6 separate regions of the Homo sapiens genome follow, and all the other regions are reported to be linked to region 6. The links are microRNA targets in miRTarBase. Many come from high-throughput screens and were not tested one by one. Region 6 holds a microRNA gene; each other region holds the end of a gene's coding sequence.
What was found. Region 6 holds the annotated microRNA hsa-miR-574-5p (UGAGUGUGUGUGUGUGAGUGUGU, at 1,881-1,903, opposite strand). A microRNA usually pairs through its seed, bases 2 to 8, with sites in the 3' UTR of a target mRNA and lowers its output. Matches are read on the target gene's strand: a 7mer-m8 pairs with bases 2 to 8, a 7mer-A1 pairs with bases 2 to 7 and ends in A, and an 8mer does both.

Region 1 (5,089 bases), not on the chromosome of region 6:
TCAAACAACAGCAAAATATTTGGCATATGATAAAAATATCAAACCAATGACAAAAGGGTACATTATTCAATATATGGCACAGACAGAAACGATTATGTAAGAAAAAAGTTAAATTGTTCTCTACACCTTACTCTTCTAAATTACAAAGCCAAATGGGGAAAAAAAGAACTAAAAAGAAAATAAATGTAAATATCTAAAAAATAATTAATCATAAAAGACTGGGCTATGTTTTTTGTTTTTTTGTTTTTTTTTTTTAGACGGAGTCTCGCTCTGTCATCCAGGTGGGAGTGCAGTGGCACAATCTAGGGTCACTGCAACCTCCGCCTCCTGGGTTCAAGCAATTCTCCTGCCTCAGCATCCCAAGTAGCTGGGATTATAGGTGCCAGCCACCACACCCATCTAATTTCTGTATTTTTAATAGAGATGGGGTTTCTCCATGTTGGCCAGGCTGGTCTCAACCTCCTGACCTCAGGTGATCCGTCCACCTCGGCCTGCCAAAGTGCTGGGATTACAGGCGTGAGCCATCATGCCCAGCGTAGGGCTACGTATTTTTAAAACATGCTCCCCTCAAACTGCCGCCAAAAAAATCCAAAGTATAAGGAAAAATAAAAGGCTAATTTCAAACTGGGAAAAAATACTTATAATGACAAAGGTTAATATCCTTAAGTATCATATTTATAAATCCATAAGAAAGAAAAGGACCCTGGCCGGGCACGGTGGCTCACGCCTGTAATCCCAGCACTTTGGGAGGCCAAGGCGGGCGGATCACGAGGTCAGGAGATCGAGACCACAGTGAAACCCCGTCTCTACTAAAAATACAAAAAATTAGCTGGGCACAGCAGCGGGCGCCTGTAGTCCCAGCTACTCGGGAGGCTAAGGCAAGAGAATGGCATGAACCCGGGAGGAGGAGCTTGCAGTGAGCCGAGATCACGCCACTGCACTACAGCCTGGGCGACAAAGCAAGACTCCGTCTTAAAAAAAATAAAATAAAATAAAATAAAATAAAGAAAGAAAAGGACCCTACCCCGTACCTCCAAGAAAACACAAAGGTCATGAACAGGCAACTGACAAAAGAAATATAATCAGCCAGTTAAGATACACCCAAAGAGCTCAACTTCACTAATAATAGAAATGTAAGTAAAAACGGTATTATAACTATTTCTGGCTATCAAATTAGCAAAAAAAAATTTTTTAATCAGTAATACCCAGTGTTTCCAAGAGTGCAAGCATACTGGCCTTTACATACTGATGGTAAATATGAAAATTGAGCAACTTTTCTGGAATGCAATTTAGCAAAATGTAGGGATCAAAAAGCTTTTTTTTTTTTTTTTTTTTTGAGACGGAATCGCATGCTGTTGCCCAGGCTGGAGTGCAGTGGTGGAATCTCAGCTCACTGCAACCTCCACCTCCCAGGTTTTAAGAGATCCTCCTGCCTCGGCCTCCCAAGTAGGTGAGATCACACCCTGCTAATTTTTCTGTATTTTTAGTAGAGACGGGGTTTCACTATGTTGGCCAGGCTGGTCTCGAACTCCTGACCTCAAGTGATCTGCCCGCCTCGGCCTCTCAAACTGGGATTACAGGCATGAGCCACCGCACCCAGCCAAAAATCTTTTCAAAATATGCAATATTCTCAGAAATAAGAACACTGCTTCTAAGAATGTATCCAAAGCAAACAGAGATTGGCAAAAAGTGTGTAAAACTACATATCAGAGTTATTTATAATGGAGAAAATTTGGAAAATCATCTAACACCCAACAATGGGGTAAAATAAAGTATTTTAATAAAAGAACTATAAAATGGAATGAAATGCAACTATTAAAATATCACGTATCACTGTAGTACTGTTCATACTAATAAAAGATTAGAATAACTTCAATGCCCATCAGTAGGGACTGCTTAAACAGATTATGGTGCAATAGTCAATGGAATACCTAAAAAGAACGAGGTCACTCTCATGTTCTGATCCAGATTCTTCTCTCCACCTGAAGTGGTCTTCTTCCTCCAGATATCCACCTGGCTCGCTTGCTCAAATGACACTTTACTTTACCCGTGAAGGGGGTCCCTTGCCATCTTATATACATTAATAACTTGAACCCATCCCAAATGAATTCCTCTCCTCCTTGTCCAGCTGCTCAGTCTTTACCATGTGGTTCATTTCAACTGTCCACGTGCTGTCTGCCTTCCATTAGAGGAAAAAAGGTCCTTGAGGGCAGAGGCTTTGGTCCACTGCTGTGAAACCCAATACCTAAAATAATACCTGGCACTTAAGTAAGGTGCTCAACAGATACTGGACGGATGGATGAATGGACGGATGGGCGGACAGATGGATGAATGGATGGATAGATAGATATGGGACAATCTCAAAGACACAAAGGTAATAACGGTGTGTCAATTTTGCTATCATTTGTCTTTTTTTTTTTAGATAGAGTCTCACTCTGTCATCCAGGCCGGAGTGCAGTGGCGCAATCTCAGCTCACTGCAACCTCCAACTCCTGGGTTCAAGAGATTCTCCTGCCTCAGCCTCCTGAGTTGCTGGGATTACAGGCACCTACTACCATGCCCGGCTAATTTTTGTATTTTTAGTAGAGACAGGGTTTCACCATGTTAGCCAGGCTAGTCTTGAACTCCTAACCTCAAGTAATCCACCTGCCTCGGCCTCCCAAAGTGCTGGGATTACAGGCGTGAGCCACTACACCCAGCCTCTTTTGTCTTTTAAAAAAGAAAAACTTAAAAGTGTGTGTGATGTGTTAACAGATATCTGGAAGGATACACAAAACGTGGAACACTGGCTGCCTCTAGGCAGGGAGGTTGGGGATGAGTTATGGGAAAGCCATCTTTCACTTCTGGCCTTGCATTTCCCAACTACAGGCACCCGCCACCACACCCGACTAATTTTTGTATTTTTAGTACAGACGGGGTTTCACTATGTTGGCCAGGCTGGTCTCGAACTCCTAACCTCAGGTGATCTGCCCGCCTTGGCCTCCCAAAGTGATGAGATTAGAGGTGTGAGACACCATGCCTGGCCTACACTTTAGTTTTCTTTTACTTTGTTACAAGTTTAATTTTGGAAATGGAGCCAAAAAACTTTCTCTAAGGAAGCCCTACTAAAAGTACTTACCTCTCTAAAACGAGGAGGTAGAAGATGAGGCTGAAGGGAATGTTCATTTACCACTTACTATTAGAAAACCAAAAATGGCAGGAACTTCCTTTGATTTCAGTAATTTAGAGCTCAGCATTTTGTGTCTGATTCTTTCAAAGCCTTTAAAATTTCTAACTTTGTAAAAAACACATTACTTGTTTTTAAAAGTAATGCATAATCTAGTGAGGAAAACCAGGTATCTGGTGTCTCAGGAGGACAGTTAGGAATACAGAGTGTGGCTGAGCTGCACGTCAGCTGACCCATCACAGACTTAACCTCCTTCTCTATTCTTTCCCTCTATAAAGATTGGGAATGCTCAAAACATTACTTCTACAATCTTTCATACAGACTGGAGATATTGGACATTAGACACAGGCCTAGTCAATAGGTATGAGTAAATTTTTGGACAAGCTTCTGCTTCCCTAATTAAGAGCGACAGATGTGAGGAGTACTACCCTCTCCCCTCTTATTCATGTTGTGAATGTAGATATGGTATCTGCAACCATGGGGGCACCTTATAACTATGAGGCAGCAAGAGCCAACATTCAGGTGGGAAGAGGCAAGCACTCTGGGTATCTGGTGGAGTCACTCAACAGAAGAACCCTTCTTGTTACGGAAGAAAAATAAACCTCTATTTGTTTAATGTATTGTAAACTGGGTTCTGTGAACCTGCAACCAAAGGAATTCCTAACTGATATTCTTGGGAATCTATTTTAAAAAGAAACTAAAAATAACTCAAATTCTATGTAAATTTAGAAAGAAGACTGTAATAAATCAGAAATGTAAATTACAAACCAATTATCTTCCTTAATGTCTCTATTGCAAATTTTTAAAAACGACGACAAAAACTCAGAGGAAACAGAAAAAAGCAAAATCAGTCAACATCAACTCCATACAACAGATTTGAGAATGCAAACATTCAGAATTTATACATTCAATAAGGATAAACTCACACAGTAAAACTGAAGTTTGATCAATGCTGGGGCTGTTCTGGACTAATGTTCATTGTTCGATAAATTTCTTTAAGTAGTAACAGAGCAGTATCTTCAGATTCCCTATGAAAAGGAAAAGCATATTTACTTAAGAGACAATTAGAAGAAATTAACTTCTATGCACAATGGTTGAAAATGCAGGTTCTATTCTATTCAACTCTATCTAAGAAGGGCAAATGATAGCAATGTAATCTCAGTGTAATAAATAAAGCAGCGTAATCTCAGAGCTGTCCTTAAAAACTAGATGAATACTGATTAGCTCCAAAATAGCTGTGTTGCAATTCTCCTTGGTGACAGGGATACAGGAAAGAATGGCATTTCAAAGTCCCTACCACTCCCACTGTGAAAGGCATTCCCACAAAAACAGTGTGCAAGAACCAAGGGTCTTTGGTCAAAAGCAGATGACATACTGCCATCTTGTGGGTAACTAAGGGGGAAAAATAACGATTCTGAACATATAGTAATTCAAATGAATATTCATAGTACATTGTATCAGTAAAAGAATCTCACTAAAACTAAAATTGCTGCACGTGCTAGCACCAAAAGCCCACTCAAATGTTACCAAATTTAAGAACACTTACCAATAGCATAAGTGACTCTGAAGAGCGAAAAGGTATTCATTAAAACTCTCTATTGGTTTTTCTTGGAGAACGTAGTCAATTCGGCGGCCTCCATTTAACATTCCAACCTTTCCTAAGTAGTCCTCATCCTTGGAAAAATCTGGACTTTCAACAACCTTTTCTGCTAGAATTTAAACCATTTCAATATCAAAGTCAATCACTTAATCTTTATCCTTTGACTTTAGCTGACTTTCTGGGCTCAATGAGAATACTGCTTGACGCATGTAGCAACCTGAGGAGCTACCAGGCTCACTCCCCGTTCCTCCAAAGAGCCAGGGGAAGAGGGGCTGGTTACCCGAGAGAGAGGAGAAAAGAGCCAACAAGCTGAGAGAAGTTGT
Region 2 (5,089 bases), not on the chromosome of region 6:
CCCTTTCTTCCCCAGCCCCTACAACCCTTCTACCCCCTACTGAAAAATCCCATCATCAGCCCAGTGGGCCTTTATTCCCCTCCTCTCTCATACCTTCGATTACCACGTGATGTCCATCAGCTGAGCCTCTAGGTCACAGGTCTTTCATTGTAGAAAGGGATCAGCTGTGAACATTCTGGTGCTCATAGGAGGCACGTGATAAATGGAGGGCTCTCCTTTCATCGTATCCTATCTTCATCCTCTCTCCTCCTCTTCCCAGGACCAGCTGCAGGCCCAGGACTTTAGCAAGTTCCAGCCGCTGAAGAGCAAGCTGCTGGAGGTAGTGGACGACATGCTGGCCCATGACATTGCCCAGCTCATGGTGCTAGTGCGCCAGGAGGAGTCACAGCGGCCCATCCAGATGGTGAAGGGCGGAGCGTTCGAGGGCACCCTGCACGGCCCCTTTGGGCATGGCTATGGGGAGGGGGCTGGAGAAGGTATCGATGATGCTGAGTGGGTGGTGGCCAGGGACAAGCCCATGTACGACGAGATCTTCTACACCCTGTCACCGGTGGATGGCAAGATCACAGGCGCTAATGCCAAGAAGGAGATGGTGCGCTCCAAGCTGCCCAACAGTGTGCTGGGCAAGATCTGGAAGCTGGCCGACATTGACAAGGATGGCATGCTGGACGACGACGAGTTTGCACTGGCCAACCACCTCATCAAAGTCAAGCTGGAGGGGCACGAGCTGCCCAACGAGCTGCCTGCCCACCTCCTGCCCCCGTCCAAGAGGAAAGTTGCCGAGTGATGGGGTGGGGGGACATTCAGACGGGCAGTGTTAGAGGAGGAGATGGGAGCGGTGACTACACACACACACACACACACACACACACACACAAACATGCACACACACATATGCATATCTTGACATTGCTCTGTAGGTGAGAGAGGACCATGACGCCCATGTTTGCAGCTGATACTTGTTTGGGCACACCTCCAAGTTCTCGGGATTAGAAGGACAAGAGCACTCCCAGGCCCCAGAGTCTAAGCCTAAGTCTCTATCGCTCTTCCCCTCTCCTCGGCCACTCCCCAGATACCAGACCTGAGGCAATTCACTTGCCAGCACAGATGGCCAACCCACCTCCAGATTCCCCAGTGCTTCCACACCCGGGCTCTGAGCAAATGGAAAAGACTTTTCATTTAGTAGACAATTCACTTCTTTTTCTGTGCTTCCCCTATCTGCTTTGGCTTCCTAATAAGAAATCCATTCAAGAGCTAGGAGATCTGAGGGCAGGCGGGCAGCTGCAGGGAGGAGAGGTGAGAAAGGAAGCGTCTTCTAGAGACATTGGCCCAGGAGCTCTGTTCTTTCCTAATCTAAGCCTCTGTCTTCTTCGGCAAACCTTGCTTTGAACTCTGCCAGTATTTCATTTTAAAGAATCCCAGAGCGGGAGAGAGAAGAGAAAAAAATTGATAAGAGTGAGGAAATTGTCCTGTAGTCTATTGAAAACCAGTCAAGGTGGTTTTAGTTCATAGATTTTGTTAGATGTTCTTTCCACCTGGCCTATGATGTTTAGATGTTCATACTTGACTCACATTTACCCAGCCCCTCCTGCGTACCAGGAGCTGTGTTAGGCACTTTATATACATTATTCTATGTGGCCCTCACTGATGCCCCAGGGAAGTATGCATTAGCCTTCCCATTTTGCAGTTGAGGAGGCTGAGTAGCCTCAGAAGGGTTTAGGCGACCTTCTGAAACTCACAGAAGTCACGTGATGGAGAGAGGATTCAAAGCCAGGGCCTCAGACCCTCACACACTTGTCTGTGCTATGATGTATGCAGGATCCCAGCATTGATACCCAATGACAAACTATGGAGAACAAGCAAAGTATGCAGGCCCCCTGCAGCCTCCCAGGACAGGCTGGCAAGGGAGGAGGGCCGGCCAGCATTTGGTGGCCCATCAGTCTGGCCATCTGTCACGTCACAGAAGCAAACCGTGCCTTCTGGCTCTGCGCCCCATATTCCCAGCATCATAGACATCCAACAGCACCAGCAGGAGAGTGGGCTAGCCTGCTGGATGCTGTTCGTGCCTGTCCCTGCTCTGCCTCCCACCCAGTTGCCTGAATCATCCCAGCTCAGATGCAGCCACTGTCTCTTGTCAAGTGGGACCTCATACTATTCTCAGAAGGCTAACTTGAGAGGTTTGGGGCCTTGTTCCCCAGAGGGTCCCCAGGGACTCTGCAGTGTCCTTGGCAAATCCCCACTGTACTCAATGCCCTACATTCTCTTCTGTGGTCTCTCCCCTGGCTTGCTTCATGGCCACTGAACCAATCACTTTGTATGCTATGCTCCTACTGTGATGGAAAACAAAATGAGTATAACTTATTTTATATCCATATTCAGACTATATAGAGAATATTCTATGCATCTATGACGTGCTTACTACTGCAGTGCATTTGTCATTAGTCTTCATGTTAATACAGTACATTTATTCTTTGGTACCTGCCTGGCCACAGAGCATCATTCAATGGAGGCTGAGGGAGAAGGGCTGGGTTCTTACTTGGAGTTCCTGGTGAAATCTTTGGCTGGAAAGGGCTCACTGGGGCCACCCAATGGCCAGCATCCACAACCAGCTTCCCAGTGGGCTGGAGTTTGTCTAGGCTCAGTGACCAACCCAGGCACAGCTGGTGGAGCCACCGCTCCCTGCTCCTCTGGAGTGAAGATGTTCCCTAAGCCCCTGGGCTTCCTTCTGCAAATACACATTTCTCTTTCACATGAAATGAAGGGCAGACAAAGGCCAGGCAAAGAGGTCTCACCTGCTCTGGAGAAAACCCTTGAGTGCCGAGTGCAGGTTAGGGACCATTTCTCAACTCCACACCTTTCTTCAAGCTGAAGGAGAAATGGGAAGGAAATAGCAGAGGTAGGTGAAGTTCCTGTCTTTTTATTTTATAGGAAAGGGAGATGTCTGTTATCCCCTTTCTTCACTGCCACTGGACACACATGCCACTTTCCTGCCCTTCTACATATGCTGCCTCTCTTCCCTCTCTCCATCTTGAAGTCTCCACCCAGGAGAGACCTGTGAGGTGTGGGAATTCCATGTTTGCACAGCTCCCATCTCCCTGGAAAGAGGAACTGATGTTTGAGGGGACAGATGTGGGTCACTTTCCCTGGCAGTGCCCTCTAGCCTTGCTGCCTTGGCTTTCTGACCCCTTCCAGGCTTCAGGGGCCTGGGAGATCTCATGCCTCAGCCCAGGAAACATTTAATAGGGAAAGCAGAGACATGTCATGTCAGCCCCACAGACAAGAATTTCTAGAGCACTTGTCCTGTTGTTCCTTGCCCCGACATTACTCAGTCTGGGCCATGGAATCCATCCAATAAACACAGCAACACCCTATGCTACTGACCAAGCAAAGCTTGCCCCTGGTACCAAAGAGCTAAATCATGACCAAAGTGTGACATGAATGTAACTGAAATGCGGGTTAGTTGCTCAATGTATGCAAAGTCCCACGGACAAGAGTAAAGTCTGATACCAATAAAGTGAATGTATTCCAAAGCTAGCTTGGAGGAGGGGCACACAACGTCCTGCCTTTCAATGTGCCGCTTCCCCTTTGGAGCAGAAAGCAGGCACTTTTATAAGGTAAGGGAGCAAGTGAGCAAGGGTCCGCCTGATAGCATGGTGCCTTATCTACTGGACAGTTGAGTCGGGCCTTCCTGGGCAAAAATAAATTTTAAAAGTGGCCAAGTAGGCATACTTTAGATATAACCTCCTAGTGAATGAAAGTCCTGAGGCAGCCCCTGGAGGGTGGGAGTTCCAAGGCAACCCCTGGAGGTGAAAGCTCAAGGAGGGCATGTTTTGGTCTGCAAATTGGCAGTCAATTCTGGAGGACTATTTTGGAGCAGAGAGATGAACTTGCCCTGTAGGGAATGTCTAGTGAAGGGGAGATGAAAGCTTATATTTGCATTTCCCTTTTTTTGAGACAGTCTCACTCTGTCGCACAGGCTGGAGTGTAGTGGCATGATCCCAGCTCACTGCCACCTCTGCCTCCCAGGTTCAAGCCATTCTTGTGCCTCAGCCTCCCAAGTAGCTGGGACTACAGGTACTCCACCACCACGCCTGGCTAATTTTTTTTTTTTTTTTTTACTTTTAGTGAAAACAGGGTTTCACCATGTTGGCCAGGCTGGTCTTGAATTTCTGACCTCAAGTGATCTGTCCACCTCAGCCTCCCAAAGTGCTGGGATTACAGGCATAGGCGAGAGCCACTGCGCCAGGCCTATATTTGCATTTCTAAAGGGCTACCTAGGAAGTTGGGAATCCAGGAAATGGAAAAAAGAAGAGAGGAAGAAAAAAACAGCTCTTAGAAAACTGGGGTGCTCATTTACATGAATATTTCCAGATGACACCACTGAACCATAGCAGGGCATGGGCCTTGGTTTGCAGAGTGATGAGTGGTTGCCCTGAGTCATCCCCACTTCCATTTGGTTCCAAAACCTGTATTTATGAGTTAACTCATCAGAATCTGCTGAATGACCTGAAGAGAATAGGCTTGTTTATTCTTCCTATGTGATGCTGTCTGGAGTCTATACATCCTCAATCCTTTATTTAATTTCTCCATCCATTCATCCATCGATCTTTTTTATATTCAAAAGATGCTGAGCACCTCTTACAGAAAACATCCTGAGGGAGAATATAGAGATTCATTCCTTGAGTCATTCAAAAACACTCAATATAAAGTCTACCTGAGTGTAGAGACAATTCTATATGGATCAAAGAGCTCACAGCCTAGTAGAGGGGATGAGGCACTTATGCAAACACTGATAATACGGTGAGGGAACATGAAAGGGGGATGCTCAAGAAAGTCAGAAATGGCTTCAAACTGGGGAGGAGGTGGTCAGAGAAAGCCTGTAGCAGGATGGGCACTGGAACTGAGAAACCGTCTGGGGCCAACCTCTTGGGCCTGTTTTCTTCCTTCCTGATCTAAGGAAGACAGGCAGAATTTTTACATAAAACACAACACAGAGCATTCTCAGCCCACTAAATCATGACAGACTGAGAACCACTGAAGTATTTGTGGAAAAGCATGATTAGAATTTTGCCTCTGGGGACTGTGCTGT
Region 3 (5,000 bases), not on the chromosome of region 6:
CTGCGCGGCCAGGACCGCGCTGACCCTGCCCTGTCTCCACAGGTTTCGGCATGACCACCCCCGCGACGGTGGGCGGGAAGGCCTTCCTCATCGCCTACGGGCTGTTCGGCTGCGCTGGGACCATCCTGTTCTTCAACCTCTTCCTGGAGCGCATCATCTCGCTGCTGGCCTTCATCATGCGCGCCTGCCGGGAGCGCCAGCTGCGCCGCAGCGGCCTGCTGCCCGCCACCTTCCGCCGCGGCTCCGCGCTCTCGGAGGCCGACAGCCTGGCGGGCTGGAAGCCCTCGGTGTACCACGTGCTGCTCATCCTGGGCCTGTTCGCCGTGCTGCTGTCCTGCTGCGCCTCGGCCATGTACACCAGCGTGGAGGGCTGGGACTACGTGGACTCGCTCTACTTCTGCTTCGTCACCTTCAGCACCATCGGCTTCGGGGACCTGGTGAGCAGCCAGCACGCCGCCTACCGGAACCAGGGGCTCTACCGCCTGGGCAACTTCCTCTTCATCCTGCTCGGCGTGTGCTGCATTTACTCGCTCTTCAACGTCATCTCCATCCTCATCAAGCAGGTGCTCAACTGGATGCTGCGCAAGCTGAGCTGCCGCTGCTGCGCGCGCTGCTGCCCGGCTCCTGGCGCGCCCCTGGCCCGGCGCAATGCCATCACCCCAGGCTCCCGGCTGCGCCGCCGCCTGGCCGCGCTCGGTGCCGACCCCGCGGCCCGCGACAGCGACGCCGAGGGCCGCCGCCTCTCGGGCGAGCTCATCTCCATGCGCGACCTCACGGCCTCCAACAAGGTGTCGCTGGCGCTGCTGCAGAAGCAGCTGTCGGAGACGGCCAACGGCTACCCGCGCAGCGTGTGCGTCAACACGCGCCAGAACGGCTTCTCGGGCGGCGTGGGCGCGCTGGGCATCATGAACAACCGGCTGGCCGAGACCAGCGCCTCCAGGTAGACCGCCCGTCCGCCCGCGCCGGGGACCCTCTCCAGGCCGCGGGGCCGCCGGGCGTGGTTTGCTTCTCTCAGTCACTGCTGGCGCTTTCTTAATCTTTATCCAATAAAATGAAACAAAAAAAATTTTTTTAAAGAAATACTATTTGGCCAGGCCTGATGTTATCAAGGGCAGGTTTTGGGGACGCCTGTGTTCCTTGTGAGTCCCCTCTTGGAGAACCGTGGCCCCCAGCAGATTCTCCTTCAGGGAGAGAAAACGTGGCCCCCCAGGCCCACACCCAGGGCATACCGCAGCGAGGAGGGTTTTGCAGACTGGCACTAAACCCCGTCCCCATGCACAGAAGCAGCCGGCAACCCCAAAGCATATGGTGCAACTTTTCGTGGCTCTGAATTACCTCCTCAGCATTTAGAATCCTGGCCCAGCCTAGCAGCTTCCTTCTGGTCGTCAGAAGTGATATAGTCACAGTTTTGACAGGTGGGGGTTGGGACAGCCATATGTTGCCTCCCGATGTATATATATAGAACAGCCACTACACACAGAGAATGGTGTAGTATTATGCAATGAGATGAAACATAGCACCAACTTGCGGACTGTGGCATTTCCCCCAGATTTGGAAATTGCAGTGGTGAGGGGCTTAGCTGGCCTTTCTCAGCTCAGAGTTAGTCCATTTAGCACAGAGCACAGGGCAGCTACTTCTAATGGTGGGCGGTCCAGGGCACCTGTGAGGAGGGGAGCGGTGAGGCTGCAGGAGCCCTGCTGGGCTTTTAGCTGGCTGATCTCCAGGCTCGGATCGGCAGATCTTGAATCCCCCAACCGTCCTTTCTTTCACAAGCTCATCCACAGCAGTGCTTTTCAATATTAACCAGGAATATCTGAGTCTTCTCAGACAAGATATTTATTTGTTGGTGTGGATTTTTTTTTTCTTAACTACTGTTGATCAGTTCAACTTTTCCCCCTTTAAGAGATCATGGGGTTGCCGGGCGCAGCCCTCCAGCTTCTCCTCCTCCTCCTCTGAAGGAGGCACCTCTGCCAGCTGCGTCCTTGGGAACCAGGGCCTGCAGCACCAGGAACCCAAAAGAAGCCATCTTGCAAATGTCAGGGTATTTGGCTCCAGAGGCCATGATGTGTTTGGGGTCAGGAAAGATAGAATCCCTTTCTAAATATTGTTTATCAAGAGGATTTGTCTTCTCCATGCACAGCCTATTGGAGGCAGAGGAAGGCAGGAGGGAGGTAGCTGGTGAAACTGGTGGATGGAAGTAATGTTAGGATTACAGTTTTGCTCTCGGGCTGAGGGACAGATTCTCCCAGACTTGCCTTCTGCAGCATAGGGGGTCCCTGACCTGGAGGAAGGCCAGATACCCAGGCTTCATTGAAAGGATAGTGGTCTGGGGGTGTAAACGAACACTCTCTCTGCCCATTTTTCTCATATATGATGAGGGCAAGGACAGGTGCCAGAGTTTATACAGGCACGGCGTGACCCACCAGTATGCACAGCTTCTGATAGGAAGTCTTAGAAAAGCACCGCCTCACCGCCTCCAGCTGGAGCCATGCTGTGAAATCTCTCTCCCTGGCAAATGTGCGTGGAACACACACACACACAAACATGCACGCATGCGCTCACGCACCCAGCATTAGAGTCAAACTTGAATGTCAAACTCTTCTTTCCCCTTCTAGTTCATGGCAGGAAGGGAAAGCTTACCTGAGATCTCAGTGACTCTCCAGCTATTTTGGGTAATTTCTGATTTGAGTTGGGATTGGTTTTTAAACACAGGCCCTAATCTGGGGTGAAGCCAGTGAAGCAGCGCTGGCCAGGAGAGACGTCAGTCTTGCTAAATCCTGAAGGTGGGTTCCTGTGAAAACCATGCTTTCAGGATTCACTGTGACTGTCAGGCCAGCCCAGTGAGTGCCCCCCATCCAACCCATGGTTGCGGTCACAGTGAAGGGATTGCCCACGCAGGGGCGCACGTGTTCTCTAGGGCAGGGCCCTCTGACAGGACCTGGAAATAAAATCCACATTTATCCCTTTAAAAAAGGGAACGATTAAAAGGCATCCAATTAGAGGTGTTACCTAGGCAACAGGAAATAACTTGGGGATCAGAGCCATCCAGAGAGGGAAGAAGAGATCCCCATGATAGAGGCATCTAGACAGTGAGGACTTGATCTGCGGGCAAAATAACAGCCTACCCACAGGAAGTGAGCCCCAGCAACAGTACAGCAGCCTAAAACCCAGGCATCAAGACTGTGTGAGCTAGACAGGTCTAAAGAAACCTCCAGGCAATCCCCCGCCCAGCGTGCAGGACTACACAGAATCGTGGTCTCCATGGGAGGAACCAGGACCCACCTCCAGAGAAGAAAAACTCAAAATGTTTCTTGGCAGTCTTCTCTGTTGGCGGTGCTTCCTAGACTCTATCCTAAGTTGCTTATGCTGCAGCCTCAGCTGTTTTTACTTGTTTTCCTATGCTTTGGTTTTGGAAAGAGGCAATTGGAGGCAGCTTGAGCAATCTTCTAAAGGAATGGTAAGCATGGTTTCAAGGGGCAGGAAAATGAGACCCTTCCTCTTCCCACCTCCCAACTTCCCAGAGAAACGCCAGTCCTCCAAGGTACAATGGCAGCTCAGGATCCAGTGGCACATGTGTATTTTTGCCTATGTTCCCCTGTCCCCATCCCCCAATCCAGTCTCAGTCACACTGCCATGATACATCACACCATCATCCTTCATCTCAGGCCAAAGGGCTCAGCGCCCCAGACGACAGGGACTGCTTCCCTGAAGCAGGGATGTGGTTCTCCCATCATTTCAGGAACAGTGACATTGATAGGGATGCCTTTCTTTGGTGCAGGTTCTTCTGAACCTCAGGCCAAGAAAGAGCTCCATTCCCTCAGATGCTGTGGCCTCTCTCACTGTCTTGGGGGTCTCCAGTTTGCACACCACTGGTAGCTCACTGTAGCCTACAATTTCCTCATGCTCCAGGATTTGCTTCCTAACCTTAGGCCTGGACTTACCCATCATGCCGGTGCTGTGGGGCTCCCTTAAAGTTTGAATGAACTCCAAGAGGCCCTCACCATATGACTGTGGCCACAGAGAATCCAGAGTCTTGGCTAGCAGCCTTCTCAGAGCTGAGGAGAAAGGTAAAGAAGCCACCCTGGGTGTCCTAGCTTGCTAAAGCCAGGTGGTCAGGCCTTTGTGTCCTCTGAATGAAGCAGTGCCTCCAGGCCTGGAGAAGGCATCAGAAGGCTTAGGCAATCTCAGGCTCTCATTTTGTGGAAAATGCCAGACAGCCCTGGGCATTTGCACAGCATCATGCATATATGTATATATATATACACACACACATACACACCAGCCTTACAAAGAGCTACTAACCCTTTTCCCCAAGGAAAAGTCTCAGTCTGGGCCACTTTAAGAAGAAAGATTTCCCATTTTTAACTCTCTAGAGATGTACCAGGGCCTGGAAAATCCCTCTCTGCCTTGGGGGAGTTTTATGTACAATTTGCATGTATTCAGGTTTCACACAGAAGCCAGCATCCAAACCCAAGCCAAACCCTGGAAAATAGCTGCTAAATTGACCCAGGATCCTCCGTCCTTCAGACAGGCCTCCCAGCAGACCCCCTCTTCCTGTGGACTCTGGGGTGAGGGATGACTGAGCCCTCATGGCCAAAGGAGAAGCTTCTGGGGAACTGAGGCAGACGGCAGCCCAGTCAGGCAGAGACCATAGGAGCGACGGGCCCTGTGGTTCGATCTTACTGTAACTTTTTACATTCTTAAAAAACAAAAAGCACAATTCCACATACACACTGTCTGGAAAGCACAGCCAGACAGCCAGCCTAGGGCATCTGAGTCCAGAAGAGGCGCTGGGGCTTTATCTGTTGCAGGGTTCTTGTATTGTTGTATAATGTGCTGGTGGTGACTCAAGGCTCCTCACTTTGTAGGGTGGAGAGGGAGGGAGGGAGGGCCTGCTGAGGCCATTCCTGACCCCCAGGGTGGGCTCATCAGCATGGACTTGGGGCCTGGACTCTTGCCCCTGAAGCAGCTCTGGCACTTTCAGGCACCCCAGAGCACAA
Region 4 (5,089 bases), not on the chromosome of region 6:
GAATCAGTAAACTTCTGTTGTTCTAAGCCTCCCAGCATGTGTTACTTTATTATGGCAACCCTAGCAAACTGGTACAGTCCCCAGTGTTCTGCACATCTTTGTGACTAATTCCCCAACTGTACCCCTCTTGCTAGAGGAAGTATCTCACACTGCTGTGTTTCTCTTGGTGCTGTCTCTCGACTGCTTCTTCCTTACACCCACCATCCCCATGAGGGTAGGGATTTGCATCTGCTTTGTTCATGAATCTCTCCTCCGCACAGGCGGGCCCCACGATCAGACGATGCTCTTAGTGGCAGCATGATGGCATTCAGGAGGATTAACATGCACAGATGTTTGGGACTGGAGAAGTGAGGTTCAGCAAGTAGGAAGAAGAGAGGGCACCATTTAAACAGCAGATCCACCATGCGTCTTTATTCACATAGCACCAAGTAACACAGTAGCACAACATATGGAAAGAAAGTAACAGGCAACACAAAGAGAAATCCACCAGAGTCCAGAGCATACTCGTGCCAGCGGATTCCAAGACCCATCTGTGACAAACTGGTGGGCAGAACTATGTGCAGTCACTGTAGTGAGTACAGGAACTTCATAGCCCTCCTCACACCCAAGATGGCCCTATGCAAGTCAAGATGCCGTGGTGGGTAGCCCGGATGACTGTGGGATGACATGGGAAACTGGGAAAGAATGTATTGCATGCCTCAGAAGAATGGACTGTCTGACTTGGGAGCCTACCTTAGCAAGTTTTCCCTTTACTGATCATTTTCTCTTCATTTTCAGATTGTGGCCAAGAAGTACAGAGATTTTGAATTTCCTTCTGAAATGACTGGCATCTGGAGATACTTGAATAATGCTTATGCTAGAGATGAGTTCACAAATACGTGTCCAGCTGATCAAGAGATTGAACACGCATATTCAGATGTTGCAAAAAGAATGAAATGAAGCTGGGCTGTTTTCTGTCTTATTTCTCAGTTGAGTGAGCAAGGATACGAAAACAGTGTGTTTGAAAACAAATTAGGTTTGGGTTCAATTCCTTCAATTTTTAAAAAACTGGTCTCTGAGAGTTTTTTAAATCATTGAGAGCCTGTTTTTCTTCTCTAAAACATTAGTTTAATTTTCTTCAAAATGAAAATACTGCTTTGTAATTACAAAATGAGACACACCTATCTTGATATTTTAAAGCAATATCAGAGGGTGTAAAGAAGGACATTTTAACAATCGCCTTCAATTTTACTCCACTTAATTACCGAAAACTTACTGGAGAACATGTTCCAAATCTTCAGTATCTTGTTCTCTCTCTCTCTCTCTCTCTCTCTCTCTATCACACACACACACACACACACACACACACACACACACAATTTCATTCATATATGGTATTGCATTATTTTATTTTAAAGCACTGGTGAGGGGACCTCTTGGTGATTCCTGGATGATCATACACAGAGGACTTACACCATACAAAAATATTGGGCACCGCAGTGCCAGAGAAGATGCTTGAGGTTAGATTTTAAGGAGTGGGGAATTGTGAAGCCCACAGATGCGCACGCAATGACCAGCAGGAACCGGAAGCCCTGGGTCACCCCCACTCTGCCTCATTTCTGCCTCCAGGATGCCACTGCCTCTGCTTCCAGGAAAGGCAAGGGGGAGGGTGCTTATCCGTGTCTCTGGTTCCAGCTTCCTGTCTTTGCTCCCTCCCCTCTCTTAGAGACTGTGCCTTCAGCAGGACTCTTAATATCTGCTGCAACTTGGAGAACCTCCCTGCCCTGAAATGTGAACCAAGCACACTTTGGTTCCTTCTCCGGGCGGCTCTCTCTGAGACCCAAGGCTGCAGTCCCTCAGTGCTGGTGGTATCGTGTGGGGATAGCAATACTTCTCTGCCCTTCATTGTCTCATCTAGACATCAAGCAGGGAAAATCCAGGGAGATTAAATTCATGGTGACAAGTCCTGGGCAGTTCTGGTAAACGGTCCAGTTAGGGAGGGAGTAGAAACTATTGACTCAAAAGAGTTTCTGGCTGATCTGTGGCTTTGCCTCCACCATCCCTAACCAACCTCTCATCACAGCTTTGTGTGTGGGCTGAGTGCTGGCCTTAACCCTAGGCGTGGAAGAGAAAATGTGAGGTTGTTTAGATACTCATCAGGACCTCACAGGAGCTGAGACTTATCAGCCAGAATGTGTTCTTCGGACAGTCGTACACATCTTACAGAAAACCCTCCTTGTAGAGTTGGTTGTGGTATGTGTTTGATGCTATAAAGCTCATTTTTAATGTGTACACCTGCTCTAGGGACGATTCGTTTGAAAGAGAGTAAGATGCATTAACAGAAACTATCCTGGGATTAGGTGAAAAATGTCTAGCAAAAGAAACAAAGTCTTTAATAGAGTGGCCTCTTTCGCTCTTCGATTATGACTGCTGCAGTTTTACCCCAGCAGTCAGCTGTCTTTGTCAACCATACGTTTTTGGAGATTGGGTCTAGCACATGTCACCCTTGTCCACGTTGTTTCACATCTGGTTAGGGGGCAGATTTTAAAATGTAGTTTTGTAATGTTACATTTAAGCATGATAAATGATTAGACTACCAGATGTTACTAGTGCTAACTTTGTATTCTTAGACATTAAAATGATTGACATAAACTCTTTGTGCCTTGAAAATGAAACAAATTATAAAAATGTTTAAATGGAACCAATTTCTTTTGGGTTTTATTTTTTATTTTTTATTATTTTTTGCATTCCCCATTCTCCATTTAGGTTTCAAGAAATAAAATGAATGGTATGGGCTTCTTTTAAAATGGTGAGGACAGGCCTGGCATACCGGCATAGTGGCTCATGTCTGTAATCCCAGCACTTTGGGAGGCCGAGACAGGCAGATCACCTGAGGTCAGGAGTTCAAGACCAGCCTGGCCAACCTGGTGAAACCCCATCTCTACTAAAAATACAAAAATTAGCTAGGCATGGTGGTGGGCACCTGTAGTCCTAGCTACTAGGGAGGCTGAGGTGGGAGGATACCTCGAGCCTGGGAGGTGGAGGTTGCAGTGACCTGAGATCACACCACTGCACTCTAGCCTGGGCAACAGAGTGAGACCCTGTCTCAAAATGAAATGAAATGAAATGAAATGAAATGAAATGAAATGAAATGAAATGAAAAACAAAATAAAATAAAATAAAATAAAATAAAATAAAATAAAATAAAATAAAATAAAATAATGGTGAGAGCAAGTTTGAACCTGAGATTATGGGCATTTGAATTAGAGACAATCCATACTTCAGTTGTGAATCACAAAGACATTTTAAAGGAACCTTAAAGAGGCCTCCAAAGACACCCATGAACAGTCCTTGTCCAGGTGACTGGCATCGACACCCTGCTGGGTGTTCTTGTTCTACTTTTACGTGGAGTTGTAGGAAAGGAGCTGGTTCTGGGTGGTCTTCCCCAGCCCTGTCCCAACTCTGCCTTCAGCTCCGCCCCCAGCCCACACCTCTTGATTCTCCTAAAAACCTACATGTGTGTAAGGAGGTAAGAAATATTCCAGAGCTGTTCTGCTGGACCAAAATCTTCATTACAGTGTGTTTTAAAAAACAAAATGCATTTGTTCTTCAAGAGATACCATACAAAATGTAAACATGGACGAATAATGAACAAATTCTTCTTTTCAGGCTGTGTGGAAGTTTTTCTGGACGGAGAGGATTCCATTCTCAATTCTAGTTGCCCGAGAGGCTTGAAAATTAGTTCATAAAAACCCAAACTTTACCTTTTTTTTTATTTAATTGAGATGGAGTCTCGCTTTGTCGCCCAAGCTGGAGTGCAGTAGCTCGATCTTGGCTCACTGCAACCTCTGCCTCCCAGGTTCAAGCGATTTTCCTGCCTCAGCCTCCCAAGTAGCTGGGATTACAGGGCACCACATCAGGCTAATTTTTTTGTTTTTAGTAGAGATGGGGTTTCACCGTGCTGCCAAGGCTGGTCTCAAACTCCTGAGCTCAGGCGATCCACTTGCCTCGCCTCCCAAAGTGCTGGGATTACAGGTGTGAGCCACCACGCCCGGCCTCCAAACTTTCCTTAAGAACACAGAATGTCCTAAAGCAGGCTGGAAGGGAACATGAGAGCATCACAAGGTTCTACTTTGTGGATACTGCAGCATACGGAAATGCAATGACAGAATCCGCCCAGAAGAGGACTTCCAGAGACCAGAGGTCTCAATCATTTCCATTCTATAAGTCTATCTCTAAGAATTGATTATATGTTCAAGCCCTTCACCCCCAAGATAGGCGGACAGACAGACACACACACACACTAGACACACATACGTGTATACACCAATTTGTGACACCATTGTCACACACTCTCACATACTCATAAGCACACTCCCACAGACAGACATTCATGCACACCCTCCACCCCCACCCCGCATGCAGGATGAACTCCTTCCCCTCTCACCCTCCCCCAGTCGTAAGCAGTAACTCACTCTTAGCACAACCCACCCTGCCCTGAAGTTCCCCCTTCCAGTGGTTCATAATTAGGCTTTGGAAAATTTTAGATTAATGGCTTTTTTTTTTACATTTTAATTTTTTTTGAGACTGGGTCTCACTCTGTCGCCCAGACTGGAGTGCAGTGGCGTGATTTCGGCTCACTGCATCTCTGCACCCCATCCCCAGTACCCACCACCACAGGCTCAAGCAATCCTCCCACCTCAGACTCCTGAGTAGCTGGGACCACAGACACACACCACCACGCCTAGCTATTTTTTTTTTTTTTTTTGCATTTTTAGTAGAGACAGGGTCTCACCATGTTGCCCAGGCTGGTCTCAAACTCCTGAGCTCAAGCAATCCATGCGCTGTGGCCTCCCAAAGTGCTGGGATTACAGGCATGAGCCACCATGTCCAGCAGGCATTAAAAAAATTTTTTTTTTACAAGAAAATCTCAACCCTTCTTTTATTTTACAGTTAAGAGAACCAAGATGTCCTTCATTCTAAGCACACATAATTAACAAAGCCCTACATACATGAAATGGATGCATTGGGGGATGCTATTCACATGACAAAATGACTTCTCTTTCCATATATGGGTGTAAGTCTCAATTATCCTGTGGCCAATTTCCCT
Region 5 (5,089 bases), not on the chromosome of region 6:
AAAGAAGAATTAATGAGAAGCAATGGTAGTGCTTGAATTTTGATGAATCAAAAGAGAAGGAGAAACAAGAGCCCAGAAAAATCCACAAACTGTATTCCCCATTATGACTCTCAAAGAACTTTTTAGAAATGGGAAAATGGGAGTTAAAAACAGTCAATAGAGATGGGCTGTCATGAACCTTTGTCATTTGGCAGATACGTCTGGAGAACAGAGATACGTCTTGTGCTGCCTGATAAGCTCTCTGTTGTCTACTTCTTGATGGATTACTACTACCCTTGTGCATTTCTAGGGGGAGGTCATTATGGGGAGGTTATAGTAATTTGGGTCAGATATAGTAGATTAGGCTGAAAAGGAGAAATGGCCAAATAGAAAAACATTTCCATTGCTTAGAGCCCATATATTGGCAGTGAAAAATTTAATATTAATGAAATTTTGGTCTGTGGTATCTAATGTGTGTTTTTGTTTTCTCTACAGGCTACTGGGCAACCCTATGAACAATACGCAAAGATGATTTTCATGGAGCTCAATGATGCCTGGTCTGAATTTGAAAACCAAGGCCAAAAGCCCTTATATTAATTTATGAGCTTTTCCATCTCTGCTGCAGACCTGTGCTAATGCTTAGTGTGTGTCACAATTCTGAGGTTTTCGCAGATGAACCAAAAACTCCAGTAACATGTTTTCAGTACTAAACCGTTAAGTTACTCATGAATTAATTTCTCATTGATAAGGAATGTGGATGTTTGGTTTCTCCAAAGTTCCCACCATAAAAGATCCAAAGCATGAGAGGAACTTCTAGTCAGATGACCTTGCAGAACCACCGCATTCCACCCTGCCCTTTGGGGAGCCTACTCAGCATTCTACCTGGGGAAATGGAAAACAGAGGCCACCACCCATGAAGGCATAACACCCATCACATTGTCTGAGAATAGGATTAATGAGCAAAAGTTATGATAATAGAGTTATATGATGGTTTAATGGTTTCTAGATTTTTCTTGGAAAGATATAATTTGAGCAGTGGCTTTATGCAGACTCCAAGAACAAAACCACCAGGTATTTTTTTTTAAGTAAAAATTTACTAAGGCCTTTAGCATAATACTGTAAATGTCTTTTGGTCAAGAGAACTAACAAATATAAAGGAACTTGAAATGTGGGGAGTGATAATAGTCCAGTGATTAAACTACAGTCCAGTGATTACCACCAACTTTCTGACTAAGCTAAAAATGAATGAAAATGGTGGCTAAAGAAAATAGGGACTCTGAAGATGTCGAAATCTTTATTCCTGGTTAGGAAGGTGGGCCGCTACCCTTCTTTCCCTTTAGAAAACTGTGATTAATTAAATAAAAAGTCTTACTACTATAACAACTCTAAACCTGGTTTAAATGAAACATCTAATTTTGCTGTAAGGCTTAATGCTCTTCTTTTGTTTAGCCAAGAAAACATTCTTAGTTGGAAACAGGTGGTAAAGTAGTTTGGCCTGTTCACAACTTATCAGGACCAATATCTAGTGTGGACTCAGTGTTCTCTAGGTTTGTGAGCAGTTGTGGTAAGAGAATGGAAGGCAACACTGAATAGGAGTTAAGGGAATGGCACGATCACAGTGAGAGAGCTGCACTCACCTGCAGACCCAGTCAGATGGCTTGTCAGTATCTGCTCTGAGGAACCAGGTCCCACCTCCCCACAAGGCAAATCTAGACCCATTAAATTATTACAGTGGGCTTTTTTGTTTTAAAAGTGGTTGGGGATCCACAGGAACGACATTCATACAGGGACATTTGTGAAAGCAAAGCAAGAATGAATGCTTTCCCGATCTCAGACTGGCTGGATTCAGATCAGTGTGTTGGCTGGTTCTCATTTTAAGGGGTAAGCAGTTTGCTATTCTGTGACTTTAGTAGATCTCTTTTGTGTGCACATATACAATGTGCATTATACATATATATTAAATATATCCACAAAGCAGATGGGCAAAAAGATTTTCATGCTAATCTTCAAAGGTTCATGCTCAATATTGTGAAAAGCTTTTAAAAGTTGTTTTGAAAAGACAATCATTTTTTGTTTTTGTTTTAACTTTCTTGTGGCAAGCTATACCGGAAAAGCGGCATGTCAAAAATACTTTAGGTTCTACATAGATCTCTTTCTCTCTTTTGTTTTGTTTGTTTGTTTGTTAAAGTTCATTATTTATTTTACCTTTTACTGACAATGTGAAACTCGAAGAAAATGTTCTCTTTTTAAATATACAGTCATAAACTGTTCAAGGTAACCATAACAAACTAGGTGTTATTTATTAACGTATTATAAAATAATGTTTGATCCAGTATGTGCTTGTCTTATTTAAAATTGGAATGTGAGACATGTTGCTGTGACCTGTTTTTCTTTCTCATTCACATTTGTAGATATTGTGTGAACTACAGTATATAATGATAACAATTAAAAGGATATTCTGTGGATGTCACGTATTTTGAAATGATAGAACTACATTAGCTTTGTATCATGTTTGGATAATTCATCAATGTTCACAGTTTAAAACATCATTAAACATTATGTAATTACAATGAGAAAGAATCTTACTTAAATTTGGAGATTTTCCCCCACATCTCTTTTCCGGATACATTATAATTCTGGACCCCTATTTATCTCAAAACTCTTAATATATGCAGACCAACAGGTCTTTGCATTCCTTTTAAATAACTGGTTGTGACAAAGCTTGTTGTTGATCAGATTCACTGTTTCATCATATTTATTGTAATATATTTTTTGTTTTGTAAATATGTTACAACAAAATGTGATTGGTCTAAAATATTTGTAATGTATATTAAAAGGTTCAAAAATATTTGTATAAATCTAAGTTATTTGGGTACTTGTAGGAATACAATGAGGAGCTTGAATGCCACCTTCTGACATGATTTACTTTTAAGGAAAGTTATGAGGAGAGAATACAAAAAGCATGCACCAAAATGTAATCTGACAGGATTTCTGGATTTATACGTAATCACTCCTGCCCCAACACACACACACACACACACACACACACACACACACATGCACGCACACATGATTTTGATTATGCTACATGATATATGTTTCAAAAAGAATTAGCATAGAAATCCTGGTCTCCTAGCCAAAAAAATCAAAGGATTTTCAAAAAAACGAATCTGTATGTTGAGGCAAAAGGATTGAACCTGGAAGTCTGGGACTTTATCATAGAAACAAAGTCTCAGATATTTTAGTTCTTTGGAAACAAATGCTGTAATTCAAAAGCATTTGACCTGTCACTGTACTATCTACATGTGGAAGAATGTTCAAGTTGAATCCTAATGCCGTGAATGAAACACAGTCTGTGTAGGGAATGAGCAAAAAAGTTGAATTCCAATTGCTTTTTGGCCTTTTGGCTAAAATAAATGTAGCATCTAATTTTATCAGTTTAACATCTGATATGTCTTCTATCCATGTACAATATTTTAAATGGATTTTGTGGAGCAGGGAGATGGAATAGGAGTTTCCCCCACCCATTCCACACATCAGCCTGGTAATGCAGTAACTGCAGGAATAGTTCACCTCCGCCTCACTAAAACAACAACAACAACAACAAAAGACAAAATTTGAATTCCAGAAATAGTTATTGCAGCAACAAGTCAGTCTCCCTGCTGGAAACACCTATCAGGGAAGCTGGCTCAAGTAGCAGATTTTGATTATTCTAAAGATAAATCATGGTTTTTGGGAATAGTGATACATGTTGGTTTGAGATTAAAAGACTGGGTTTAAATCCTAGTTTTTCCATTTATAGACTTTTTTTTTTTTTTAAGAGAGTCTTGCTCTGTCACCTAGGCTGAAATGCAGTGGGTCTGTCACAGCTCTCTGCAACCCCTAACTCCTGAGCTCAAGTGATCCTCTCTCCTCAGCCCTCTTGAGTAGCTAGGACTGCAGGTGAGAGCCACCATGCCTGGTTTTTTTTTTTTTTTTCAGACGGGGTCTTGCTGTGTTGCCCAGGATGGTCTTGAACTCCTGGCCTCAAGTGATCCTCCAGCCTCAGCCTCCCAAAGTGCTGGGATTACAGGCATGAGCCACTGTGCCAAGCCTTACAGACTCTTATATTGGACAAGTTTCTTGAACTGAGTCTTAATTTTATCACCTGTAAAATAGAATTCTAACAACCCTGCAATGGAGGAATTAAGAACTGTGTATATAAACTCTTAACAAGCGGGTACTCACTAAATAGTAATTATTGTTATTGTTACTGATAGTAAATAAGACAAAGTATATCACTGTAGGTGGGTATTGGAGCTGGAATTACATGGAAACCTCATATTCTAGGGAGTGACACAAGTAGGAAAAGGCAACCCAAAGTTACTTTTACCTTGGTCCTTATTCCTTATCTCCTTGGGTTTACAGAGATCTGTCTACATAAAATGGCAAAGAGGTTTGCATTGTAGTTTCTGTAAAGGGAATAGCTATGTAAAAAGAAGTAGTGATTGAGCATTAGGAAGGAAAACCAACATTTACGGATTTCAATTAGTGTTGCATCATTCTTGCATTTAACTTATGCACTGACTTGCAAGCCTACCCCAGTGTAGATATAACATCCTGGCATTTATCTTGTGTGCACTGCCCTAGGTGTTACCATATATATATATATATGTTTTATATATATTTTTTTCTCACTTAATTCCCCCAAAGATTCTGAGACAGGTTTTTGTAAATCTTACCTCAGGAAGCTAAAGCATGGAGAAATTTACCCAGAGCTGGAGCTTGAGGCTATATATTTTTTTTTTTCTGAGGATAGGGAGAGATGATACTGTGTATGGTAAACTTATTAATATTTGTTAATTCAGCCAACATTTTGTGTATACTGTATGCAAGATGCTAATAGATATGCTGGAGAAAATTAAGACAGTGAATGGATTTGATGCCCTGTGAAGCATAAGAGGTTACTGTTATTTCTAATTACTACAAGAATTCTTGCTTCTTGGTGCATAAGATCTACTGTGGGGAATAGTACAAGTGCTGACCATCTGACTTTAGAGCTGAACAGTTTGGGACTTGATCTCAGCTTCCCTATTCACTGGTTACTGGGAGCTTGTTTTCCTATCTGTAA
Region 6 (5,089 bases):
GAAAAATGAGGACAAGATTGCAAGTTTTTCATAAATCTAAATTTATTAAATGTAAAGGACTGCCTTCATCTTTCAAGTTTAGCCTTTGTGCTTTTTCTTGGTATTAAAATGTCTTTCATTTTATGAAATAGTGACAGTGGATGGATTTTTTTAAAAAAAATGGCCTGACTTGGCAGCATAAAAATTTGGTTAGCATGATATCCTGTGTGAGGTCATCTCCCCCAGTTAAAAAAAAAAAACAAAAACAGTGCCAGTCAGCGAAGGACCAGGAATAAAAACTCTGGATGAGAGGCTCTTAATCAGGTTGTAGCAGTTTGTATGAGTTTGTATAAAGCTTGACAAGTCTACGTACCCAGGCTCCAGCCTATTCTCTGTGAGGCTGCCAGGCATTTTTGGACCTATTTGCTCTCCTGTTCAAAAACCATTAGGTGTAAATATCTTCACACTTCCCATCATAATCCAGCTCCAATCTCTCTCCACCTCTTGCAACTCTCAGTATCCTCCACTCCTGCCTCACCAGTCTTTTCTCCATTCCCCATAACTCTTCACATCTCCCTGCCTTTGCTTACGCTGGTTCCTCTGCCCCGGTGCTGCCCTTCCTCCAGCTGCCTGGCAAACTCCTATTCCTCTAGACACCCAGTGTCTAATGTTACCTTTCATTCTGAATTTTTCCTTAATCTGCCCCACTGCTTCCAATGAAATAACTGCTACCTCTTCTATGTTTTTGGCACTTTGCACAGATTTCTATTCCATGTATTTATGGAGTATTTACTTCTGCCATTCTGTCCTCCAAGACTGTGACCAACAGCACCTAGGTTGGTTTCTGTCCCTCAGATATTTACTGAATTGAAATACATTGTGTTTGATATTAATAAAAGAGAAACCATGTTTGATGTAAGCCTGGTCAAATAAACAAAGACAAGTTTACTTTTATGGTCTGAATCGCTCAGATTCAAGAAAGCCCCCTCCAACCCTCAAATTCCTTCTGCACTGTCTCACTTGTGCCTCAAATCCATCCCTAACGTCTCATTCCTTCACTTAAAGGTTACAATGTAAGAAGTTTATCAGATTCTTTCCCAAGCTCAGGCTTGATGGAAGAAAGGAGGGCGGGGACGCAGGCCTATGGGTGGGGTAGGGAAGGAGCCACTAGGCTGCAGAGAGGGCAAAAAGAGGCTCTGAGGATAGAGCCTGTCTCATTCTCAGTTGTCACAGGTTGGCTGAGGTCACAGGGAGTTCAGAGCACACTGATTTAAGAAGCCACCTGCCTGTGTCCTTCAAGATGTTTAGGATGGGAAATGATGGGATCAGTAGGGCATAGGTAATGCTCTCACAGCCCATAGAGAGATGTCTTCCTACTTAAGAAAAGGCAGTGACGTTCAGGCGCCTGGTCTGAGGTGCCTGGAAATACTCACCGGATGGCAGAGGCGAGGGCTAGCCGACTGGGTGGAGGGGGCCTGGGGATCTGCGGTAGGGAGTGGGACCCATCCCGGGGGCTGCGAGTGGAGGCGGTGCCTGCTTAGAGTGTTGGCTGGACTGGAAGAGCAGGCAGGGCGTGGGTCGGCTGTTGGGGGAGGAGTAAGGCGAGGGGAGCGGGGAGGTCAAGGCCTGAGCTCCCTGTGCCAAGGCCGAGGGCAGGCGCACCCTGGGACGAGGCCTCTGTCTTACAGGGACCTGCTCCCTTCGTGCCCGGGCTGGGGGACCCTGCAGCCCACCTCTGACTTGGCCCCGAGCCATTGGGGGCACTTTTCCAGACTTGCTTGGTGCCAGGACTGGATACTTTGGGAGATCCAGGCAGGCTCCGCGGAGGTTCACGCAGGCCGAGGGGGCAGACCCTGAGTGTGGGCGTGTGGGTGTGTGCATGAGCGTGGACCCGGAGCGACACACACTCACACACACACACTCACACGCCCGCACCCACGCAGGTCCCTCGGCCGCGCCGCCCCAGACCCTCACCCCAGAGCCGGGTCCTCCCTGACCACTGCTTCTCACTAACGCAGAGGGCAGGATTCGTGGGTCCCGGACGAGGCGCCAAGGTATGGTGTTCCCACCACCCCCGGGCAGCCGCCCCCGCGCTCGCCCGCCCCCCGGGGAAGGGGATGGGGACCGAGTGCCCGGGGCTCTTACCGCTCAGGCGGCCGAGTACGCGCGGGAGTGCCCAGCGGGTCCCGCCCCGCCACGTCTGCAGGGCCGGCGGGGACGCGGCCGGAGGGCGGGCGGCTGGAGAGGGGGCCCCGCCCCGCCTGCGCCCCGCCCCACGAGGAGCGCCGCGGGGACGCCCGGCCACCCCCACGCTGCGAGGGCCGGGCCCGCGCTGGGCGAGTCTCCTGGAAACTTGGCTTGTCCCACCCCTGTGCCAGCGCGGAAAGCCAGAGCGCGCCGCCTCTCCAGCCCAGGGCGGGTGGGTCTCGGGGTTCGCCAGATCCCTTTCCTTTCCTTAAAAGGGCTTGGAAAACCCCCCGCCGTGTCACTGGGAAGAGGTCGCTCAAATTCAGCTAAAGTTTGATCTCCTGATTCTGCGTTAAGCAGCACTCCCTTGCCCTGTCGGTGGGAGTGTGATAGATTTAAAACAAACAAACCCCAAACAAACAACGAAAACCCACTTTCCAGAAGGCCAGTTTGGAGCTGTGGGTTAAAACTCCGATGTATTAGCTTTGGCCTAGGAATTCCACATTTGTGAATTTGTCCTAAGTAGGCAGTCAAATGGGCAAATATGTATGTACAAGGATGTTTGTTGTAGTTGTTTCTGCGGGGGGAAGCCGGAGACAATCTCAATGTCCCCCAGTAAGATTGGTGAAGTAAGCTACAGTAACTTCAGACATCGAATATGTTGTAGCCCTTAAAAATGAGGATTCGTTGACATGGAGGGAAGGCCACATATGAAGGCCTTCCTCAAATATGGCTTAATATGAACTCAGATGCGGAGGAAGCGCAGTGTTTATAGTATTAACTAGTTTTGTAAACAATTTTGTATTTTCTATAAAAGTCGGAGGAAATACAATTTAAAAATAGTGATTCTTTCTGAGCGATGTGTTTAAGGCAGATTTTCTCCTCTCTCACTCCATCCCTTCTTCTTTTTGAAGAATTATAAATTCAAAGTTAAAGAAAAAATAGCCCTAGTCTCTCCCTTTCAATATCACTACCATTTTTTATAGTGTGTGGATCCTACCATAGTTTTTCTAAGCTTATATAAATACATGTATGCATAAACAGCTTTTTGTTTGCTTTTTTATAAAAATGGCGAGATGTTGACGTATTTTGTAAATTTCCCCCTATTTATTATATATTATAATCATCTTTCTTGGTCAATACATATCAACCAAAACCACTCTTCTAAGACTTGTCTTATATATTGCAATATGTTTGTAATTATATTTCATTCAATCATTCTCCTATTGACAATTAGTTTGCTCCTTATATTCCAGTTTCTTCCATATATATATTAATTAATTTATTAATTCATTTTTTTGAGATGGAGTCTTGCTCTGTCGTCCAGGCTGGAAAGCAGTGGCGTGATCTCAGCTCACTGCAGCCTCTGCTTACTGGGTTCAAGCAATTCTCCTGCCTCAGCCTCTTGAGTAGCTGGGATTACAGGTGCGTGCCACCACACCCGGCTAATTTTTGTATTTTTTAGTAGAGACGGGGTTTCACCATGTTGGCCAGGCTGGTCTCGAACTCCTGACCTCAGGTGATCCACCCACCTCGGCCTCCCAAAGTGCTGGGATTACAGGCATGAGCCACCGTGCCTGGCTATATTTCTTATTTAATATTTTTATTAAATATTTTTATATTAATAATTTTTTAAGCTACTGAATATTTATTTTATTTTATTTTTTAGGAGGACAGAGTCTTGATCTGTGGCCTAGGCTGCAGTGCAGTGGCACCATCTCCATCTCCTGGGTTCAAGCGATTCTTCTGCCTCAGCCTCTTGAGTAGCTGGGATTACAGGTGCGTGCCACCACACCCGGCTAATTTTTGTGTTTTCAGTAGAGACAGGGTTTTGCCATGGTGGCAAGGCTGGTCTCGAACTCCTGACCTCAAGTGATCTGCCCACCTCGGCCTCCCAAAGTGTTGGGATTACAGGCGTGAGCCACCACACCCAGCCTGTCATTTTTAAATTCATAGAAAAACCAGAAAGTTATCTTAATGTGAGAGTGGGTGGAAACTGCTTTAAATTGAGATCAATAGCCTTTTTGAATTGAGCGAGACTTTGAACCTTAACTAACACGTGGCTTCTGTAACTCAGTTTTTCCACCTCTAAAATAAAGAGCATTGCTCGGCACAGTCCCTTCCAGTTCTGGCTTTGCGAGTGTTATCAAATTATGTTCCAGTTGCAACAGGTGTGTTTTGGTGTAGCATATACACAGACGTCTGTGCCTGGGACTTCTGCTCCTGCCCAGAGACAGCAAGCACCTTTGCTAACCTGCCTTCCCTTCCCTGCTGTGCCGTAACAGCCCAATCAGATGTTCTCTTTTTAAAGGGCTGAGTTCCTCTTCTCCTTTGACCCAAACCACACCTATCCAATAAAGAAAATAAAGCAAACTATCCTGGCAACAAGTTTGTTTTTTGTTTTGCCCACTGCAAATTTGTCCCTTTTACTCATGTAGCTGCTTCCAGGACTACCAGATTTTATTTCAGATATTTTATTTATTTGCAATGTAAAACATTTTAAGTTCATTTAAAAATTTTCTGGAGTATTTAAAATATATAGAAAAGTAAAGAATAATATGACAAATACTTATTTGTGTAAAAAATATAGGAAATACTATGATGATATCTAGATTTAACAAAATTTTTTGCAGTATTTATTTTAGAATTTTCTTTGCAAAGAAAAAAATGTTACGGATATGTTTGAAACCCTATCCCTTCCATTGTCCACCATCTCTGCAGGTAGCCATTTTCTTGAGGTGGTTGTATATCCCTCCCACCCATATTTCTTTCTTTCTTATTTAGGAATGAGGTCTTACTCTGTCACCTAGGCTGGAGTGCAGTGGTGTGATGACGGCTCAGTGCGGCCTCAGACTCCTGGGCTCCAGCAATCCTCCTGCCTCAGCCTCACAAGGAGCTAGGATCACAGGGTGCCACTGCACCC

Region 1: the mRNA of SEC23IP is a reported target of hsa-miR-574-5p. The part of its 3' UTR that is shown has no 7-base or 8-base seed match.
Region 2: the mRNA of EHD3 is a reported target of hsa-miR-574-5p. The part of its 3' UTR that is shown has no 7-base or 8-base seed match.
Region 3: the mRNA of KCNK12 is a reported target of hsa-miR-574-5p. The part of its 3' UTR that is shown has no 7-base or 8-base seed match.
Region 4: the mRNA of CLIC6 is a reported target of hsa-miR-574-5p. The part of its 3' UTR that is shown has no 7-base or 8-base seed match.
Region 5: miRTarBase lists DNAJC6 as a target of hsa-miR-574-5p. The part of its 3' UTR that is shown has no 7-base or 8-base seed match.

The regions. Positions count from the first base shown.
Region 1 is chr10:119,932,791-119,937,879 of GRCh38, reverse strand. It overlaps SEC23IP (SEC23 interacting protein), which reads right to left. Exons shown (of 19, transcript NM_007190.4): 17 at 4,713-4,875; 18 at 4,093-4,194. The coding sequence ends at 4,113. Among named protein-coding and RNA genes, the nearest start is that of MIR4682, 23 kb to the left of the region's middle. RefSeq lists an enhancer at 3,644-3,813.
Region 2 is chr2:31,265,918-31,271,006 of GRCh38, forward strand. EHD3 (EH domain containing 3) reads left to right here. Exons shown (of 6, transcript NM_014600.3): 6 at 260-3,534. The coding sequence ends at 787. LOC124905983 (a long non-coding RNA gene) reads right to left here and starts at 23. Exons shown (of 4, transcript XR_007086270.1): 1 at 1-23.
Region 3 is chr2:47,516,851-47,521,850 of GRCh38, reverse strand. KCNK12 (potassium two pore domain channel subfamily K member 12) reads left to right here. Exons shown (of 2, transcript NM_022055.2): 2 at 43-5,000. The coding sequence ends at 944. It also overlaps a transcript of MSH2 not described here. Among named protein-coding and RNA genes, the nearest start is that of MSH2-OT1, 8.2 kb to the left of the region's middle. RefSeq lists a silencer at 643-912.
Region 4 is chr21:34,715,544-34,720,632 of GRCh38, forward strand. CLIC6 (chloride intracellular channel 6) reads left to right here. Exons shown (of 6, transcript NM_053277.3): 6 at 778-2,680. The coding sequence ends at 939. Among named protein-coding and RNA genes, the nearest start is that of LINC00160, 19 kb to the right of the region's middle.
Region 5 is chr1:65,412,450-65,417,538 of GRCh38, forward strand. DNAJC6 (DnaJ heat shock protein family (Hsp40) member C6) reads left to right here. Exons shown (of 19, transcript NM_001256864.2): 19 at 475-3,422. The coding sequence ends at 576. It also overlaps the pseudogene RNU2-15P. Among named protein-coding and RNA genes, the nearest start is that of LEPR, 5.7 kb to the right of the region's middle. RefSeq lists an enhancer at 97-391.
Region 6 is chr4:38,864,870-38,869,958 of GRCh38, reverse strand. MIR574 (microRNA 574) reads right to left here and starts at 1,927; the gene lies at 1,832-1,927. FAM114A1 (family with sequence similarity 114 member A1) reads right to left here and starts at 2,153. Exons shown (of 15, transcript NM_138389.4): 1 at 2,125-2,153; 2 at 1,413-1,561. It also overlaps a transcript of TLR6 not described here. RefSeq lists an enhancer at 1,019-1,602 and silencers at 1,810-1,859, 1,910-2,389.